Linked DNA regions of Homo sapiens: region 2 is linked to region 1. The links come from fine-mapping of genetic effects on gene expression. A gene starts in region 1. The other region holds a variant in brackets. All regions are shown on one strand. Distances are from middle to middle. Region 1 holds the start of GDE1 (glycerophosphodiester phosphodiesterase 1). Region 2 overlaps TMC5 (transmembrane channel like 5).

The links. PIP is the estimated chance that this variant, and not a neighbour inherited with it, causes the effect. A credible set is the group of variants that fine-mapping cannot tell apart.
Region 2: its variant is the best candidate, but not a certain one, in a credible set for the expression of GDE1 in CD8 T cells (CEDAR, PIP 0.86).

What each region holds. Positions count from the first base shown.
Region 1 is chr16:19,520,630-19,523,545 of GRCh38, forward strand. It overlaps GDE1 (glycerophosphodiester phosphodiesterase 1), which reads right to left and starts at 1,469. Exons shown (of 6, transcript NM_016641.4): 1 at 1,075-1,469. The coding sequence starts at 1,335. RefSeq lists enhancers at 751-810, 936-1,670, 981-1,150 and a silencer at 1,261-1,430.
Region 2 is chr16:19,495,100-19,498,015 of GRCh38, forward strand. TMC5 (transmembrane channel like 5) reads left to right here. Exons shown (of 22, transcript NM_001261841.2): 21 at 2,022-2,064; 22 at 2,821-2,916. The coding sequence ends at 2,867. Among named protein-coding and RNA genes, the nearest start is that of TMC5-AS1, 8.7 kb to the left of the region's middle. RefSeq lists a silencer at 1,411-1,622. The variant CAAAAA/C (reference allele first, on the strand shown) is at 1,788.

The DNA of each region.
Region 1 (2,916 bases):
CACGAGAATCGCTTGAACACGGGAGGCAGGGGTTGCAGTGCGTGGAGATTGCACCACTGCCCTCCAGCCTGGGTAAAAGAGTGAGACTCTGTAAAGTAAAAAAAAAAAAAAGAAGAAGAAGGAAGGAAGAAGAGAGAGAAAAATAAAAAAGAAGAGAATCAGATATATTTACACAGATGCAAAAGTGCCTAATCCACTGAAAAGCCCTCTCTGTAAGCTGTCATTATTATGAAGCTAGGAGAATGCCAAGAGCTGGGAGGTATCAAAAGTTTCAGGAGTGCCTTGTGAAAAGGAGGGGGCAGAAACTGATGTGAGTCCAGCTGCCAGGGTTGTGCGAGTGCGAATGTGTGTGTCTGGGGAAAAGGTGATAAGGAAATGACTCAAGTGATTTACAAGACAAGCAAACGTATGTCTTGTGAAGGGTGATCTATTTAGACTAACCTCAATTACTGACCAAGAACCTATTTGACCTGACCCATTTTCTACTTCATTCACACACCAGTCTTTGTTCTCTTCCTTGAAGTCAGGCCACACACTGCCTCTTCTGTTACCTGAACACCCCTATATTATTCCCATCTCAGGACCTTCTGCACCTGCCTGGCTCCTTATAATTCCGGTTTCTGTTCAAATGTTGCTTCTTCGGAGACGATTTCTCTTGACTATTCCATCTAAATAAAATAGCGTAACTCTTTCCTTCGAGTTCCCCCGATTTCTTCATTGCACCTTTCACTCTCTTAAAGTTATCTCATTTATGTGTTTACTTGTTTAAGGCTTGCCTCCCCCATTCCGATGTACACTCTGTAAACCAGGGACACTTTTGACCTTGTTCCTGGCTGTATGTAACCTTAGCGTCAGGCGCACAGAAACTATATACATATCTGCTGTCTTCTGTAAATATAAAACCTCAAGTCCGGAGATCCCTAGACACTGGGAGCGATCAAGGGCCGGGAGTGTGCCTTGTGGACGAATGAGGAAGTGGGAAGGCCGTCCTGAGAAGATCGGGGAACCCTGGGAAGGAAAAGTAGAAGTCCGAGCTCTCGGGAGGACCGAGGGGCGCGAACGTGGGGGTCTCACCTGCCGAATGGCCGCCAGCGTGTTCTCGGGCGCGTCGTGGCTGCCGCCACGGTGGGCGATGGCAGAAATGCGGTCCCGGGGCTTGAGCACCTGCAGGGCCCTGCAAGAGGGCACCGGCTCAAAGCTGAAGACGCGCAGTAGAACGAAGAGGCTGCCGGTGAGGAGGCAGGCATTGACCGGGCTCCGCGTCACCAGCAGCAGCACTAGCAGCAGGAAGGAGAAAGGGCCCAGGAGGCCGCCCTGGTCCTCCCACAGCCACATGCCGGCGCCCGCACCGGCACGGACGGGAGTCCCGGACCCGCCGGGCTCCTGGGGCAGTAGAACGAGAAGCGAGGGGGAGGGTCCAAGGCACCGGCAGCAGCAGGAACCCTCTGAGGGGACCAGCGCCGCACAATGGCGGCAGCAGACACATCCAGAGAGGGAGTCGGCCGCCCAGCCAATCAGGGATCGGGATTCGCAGCGCCAGTGGGCGGAGCCGCTCCATGGCAACGGGGGAGGGCCCAGGCCCCAGGCCCCAGGCTCACGTTCCAAATCTAAGGTGGGTTAGGGTTTTCCGAGGTCTGAACTTCAACCTGGGCGTTCAGACTCCTAGGCGAGAAAAGGAGGGATAAGAACCATCCTAAAGCTGTAGGACTGGAAGGGATTTTAGTGACTCCTTTATCTGCCCTTGAGGAAACTGAATTCCAGGGAACCTGGAGAGGCAGGATGCTTAGACTATCAATTCAATTCAATTCAATTCAGTTCAGTTCAGTTCAATTCAAGATGTGCCAAATACCGGTCCAGGTGCTCCGGACACAGTTGAACAGGACCTACAGGGTTTTTGCTCTTATGGGATTCACATTCTTGTGGGAGGAAATAAAAGTTAGCAAGTACACCTAACGTTTACAGAGCACTTACCATGTCCCAGGTACTTGACGAGCAAACACTTTATATGCTTATCTCATTCTCAATACAGCCTAACAGTTACTATCAGGAGACTGATTTCAATCGACTTTATTTTCCAGATTCTGGGGGACTGGAAGAGCCTAGCAAAGAAGGCACAATCGGATTATAAAACTGGAAGGGGTTTTAAGGATTCCCTTATTTCATAGATGCGGAAACTGAGGATAGGTGAATTAAGCAGTTAATGGCAGGGTGGGGACTGACATAAAGGCCTCCCCAGTGATTTGTGACATTTTCACTCCTCCTCCCCCTAATCTTACTTCTGCTAAGGGCTTTTGTACCAGGCACTGTACAGGAGTTACCTCAACTGTGCCTCACAACCACCCTTGTGATAGGCACTTTTAAAACCCCCATTTTACATATGCAAAAACAGGCACTGGAAGGAGGGTAAGAGAGATAGACCATGAAGCCGAGTTAGGGAGTGAAAAGGGGCCCCTGGACATATTTTGGAGGGCTGGTAACATTTTTATGTAGAGAACTTTGCAAAAATATTCAGGGATTTTTCTGTTACCTTTTTTTCCTTTAGTGCATTTTCCCACTGATTTGCAAAAGGGGATAGATGTCTTAAGCCTTCCAGTTGGCATCTAGGATTCAGCCTTTTTTTTTTTTTCTTTCAGACAGTCTCACTCTATCGCCCAGGTTGGAATGCAGTGGTGCAATCATGGCTCACTGCAACGTCGACCTCCTGGGCTCAAGCGATCTTCCGACCTCAGCCTCCCGAGTAGCTGGGATCACAGGCTCGCGCCACCCCACCCGGCTAACGTTTAAAATTTTTGTAGAGATGCCGTCTCCCTTTGTTGCCCAGGCTGATCTCGAACTCCTGGGCTCAAGCGATCCTTCCGCCTCGGCTTCCAAAATGTTGGAATTATAGGCGTAAGCCATCACGCCCGGTGGGTTCAG
Region 2 (2,916 bases), 26 kb before region 1:
CGCCTCCCGGGTTCACGCCATTCTCCTGCCTCAGCCTCCCAAGTAGCTGGGACTACAGGCGCCCGCCACTACGCCCGGCTAATTTTTTGTATTTTTAGTAGAGACGGGGTTTCACCGTTTTAGCCGGGATGGTCTCGATCTCCTGACCTCGTGATCCGCCCGCCTCGGCCTCCCAAAGTGCTGGGATTACAGGCGTGAGCCACCGCGCCCGGCCTACTTCAGTGTCTATTCTTGCAAATCTATTTCCCTAGGCATCTGCAAACATACCTGTATCTACCAACACTTTAATTTACTTGTTTATTACAAAAGTGAGGCTATATTATACAAATAGTATCATAACTTCCCTCCCCCGCAGCCCACCACTAAATACTATATCTTGAACGATGTTTAATTCTGTACATATTTGGATATTTGGGTTGTTTCTATGTTTTTAAATACTTAAAACAGTAGGTAATGAAACATTTTGTTACAATTATTTTTTGTGCGTTTATAATCGCAGCTACTCAGGAGGCTGAGGTGGGAGGGGAGGACTGCTTGAGGCCAGGAGTTTAAGACCAACATAGCGAGACCCCATCCCTTAAAAAATTTTAATAATTAGGCACGGTGGCATGCAACTGTAGCCTCAGCTACTCAGGAAGCTGAGGTGAGAGGACTGCTCAAACCCAGGAGTTTGAGGCTACAGTGAGCTATGATCCCATCACCGCACTCCAGCTTGGGAGACAGAACAAGACCCTCTCTCTAAAAAAAATTACCCTGGGCACAGTGGCTCCCTCCTGTGATCCCCAGCACTTTGGGAGGCCGAGGCGGGCTTATCACTTGAGGTCAGGGGTTCGAGACCAGCCCAGCAAACATGGTGAAACCCATCTCTAGTAAAAATATAAAAAACAAAAACAAACAAACAAGAAAACTTAGCTGGGTGTTGTGGTGCACATCTGTAATCCCAGCTACTTGGGAGGCTGAAGCACAGGAAATCACTTGGACCCAGGAGGTGGAGATTGCAGTGAGCCAAGGTCACACCATTGCACTCCAGCCTGGGCAACAGTGCAAGACTCCGTGTCAAAAAAAAAAAAAAATTAAAAAGTTATTTTTTGTGAATATTTCTGCCACAAAGCACGTACATGACAATGTTAATAGATATTGCTATATCATTCCCTTAAAAAGATTTAATCAATTTCATTCTTACCAAGAGAATATAAAGATACATGAAACCCTGCTCTAATTCCAAAGCCTTGCTTGCTTCCTGAGTGTCCTGAAAATACAGATGAACAGTAAATCCACCTTAACGCAAATACCACTTATGTTGGAAATTGTGATCTTGACAGAAGTGACTGACAAGTAATTTACCATCTGTGCAAATTTATACTGTCAGCACAATTTAGGTAAGGGATCTAGAGGCCTAAAGGTAGATTCTCTGAAGGTGAGGACCACGTCTGTGCACTTGTCACCCCACGTCCTAATTTATTACCTGGCATAATATGAATGCTCAGTGAATATCTGTGGAACGGCCAGGTGCGGTGGCTCACGCCTGTAATCCCAGCACTTTGGGAGGCCGAGGTGGACAGATCACTTGAGGTCAGGAGTTTGAGACCGGCCTGACCAACATGGTGAAACCCTGTCTCTACTAAAAATAAAAAAAAAAAATTAGCTGGGCGTGGTGGCAGGCACCTATAATCCCAGCTACTCCAGAGGCTGAGGCGGGAAAATCGCTGGAACCCGAGAGGCGGAGGTTGCAGTGAGCCGAGATCATGCCATTCCACTCCAGTCTAGGAGATAAAGCAAGACTCTGT[CAAAAA/C]AAAAAAAAAAAAAAAAAAAAAGAGTATCTGTGGAATGAATGAATGGAATCACTCTCCCTAAAAAACAAAACATGTTCAATATTTCTATGGCGGAGACTTGGCCTTAATCTCTCATCCCTTAACTTCTATAAAATGGTGAGGGGCTCACAAATTGTGCCAAATATGTGACAAGACCCAGAATCTGCATTCTTCCTCCGTGACGTGGCTGCTTGTTTTTTTCTTTTTCAGCAACAAGGCTTTTTGCATTTGGGGGAACATGATGGCAGTCTTGGTGAGTAATTAAACTGGGACAGAATAAGACACTAATTTATTTCTGGTGAAATATCCTAAGACAAGTGTAAGAATTGCTCATGTGTCCATTACTTTTTCAGTTGCAAATTGGATCCAAACTGGCTTAAACAAAATTCCAAGAATAATTCTTGCTTTAGGCCTTGCCTAACGCAGGAACTCACAGTGTCACCAGAACCCGGTTTCTTTCAGTTCCGTTCTTACCCATGTTAGTTCCTTTTGCAATAGACTCTGCCTAATAAGTGCAAGACAGCTTTATCAACTTCTTATATCTTCTCAGAGTCAGTCTGGTGGGAAAGACTGAGGGACCCAGGATTCTCACGGTGTTTCATAGGATCTGACTGGGTGATGTCCCCGTCTATGAACCAATTGTTGTGGGTGCAAAAATGTGGCAGTTCCCTTGATCACATGATTTCATCTGTAGATGCAGGTGGTGCAACCATGAAGACCATAGGGACCAAGAGTAGGGAAGGGTGACTTCCTAAAGAAAATCTGGGGCTGATGCCAGGAGAGCGAATTCTGGGCAGGAAACAAACAAGCAAACCCATTTATTTTTGGGGGATAGCATTTACTGATGACTTCCAGTGATGGGAGTTCAAGGGAAGGATTATAGAAACTAAAAGGAAGAGGCAAAGAAGGCATGAGAAGCTATGGAATCTTGAAGGCAAGCTGGTCTTTCCCTTGTAGAGATGGGGCAGAGTGTGCCTGCGTTAACTTCTCTTTCCTGTGTCAAACCTAGACTTGCGATCTAGAAGATCAGTTCAAGAAGGTAATCCAAGGGCCTGATGACTCTTTTGGTAACCAGACACCAATCAAATAAGGGGAGGAGACGAAA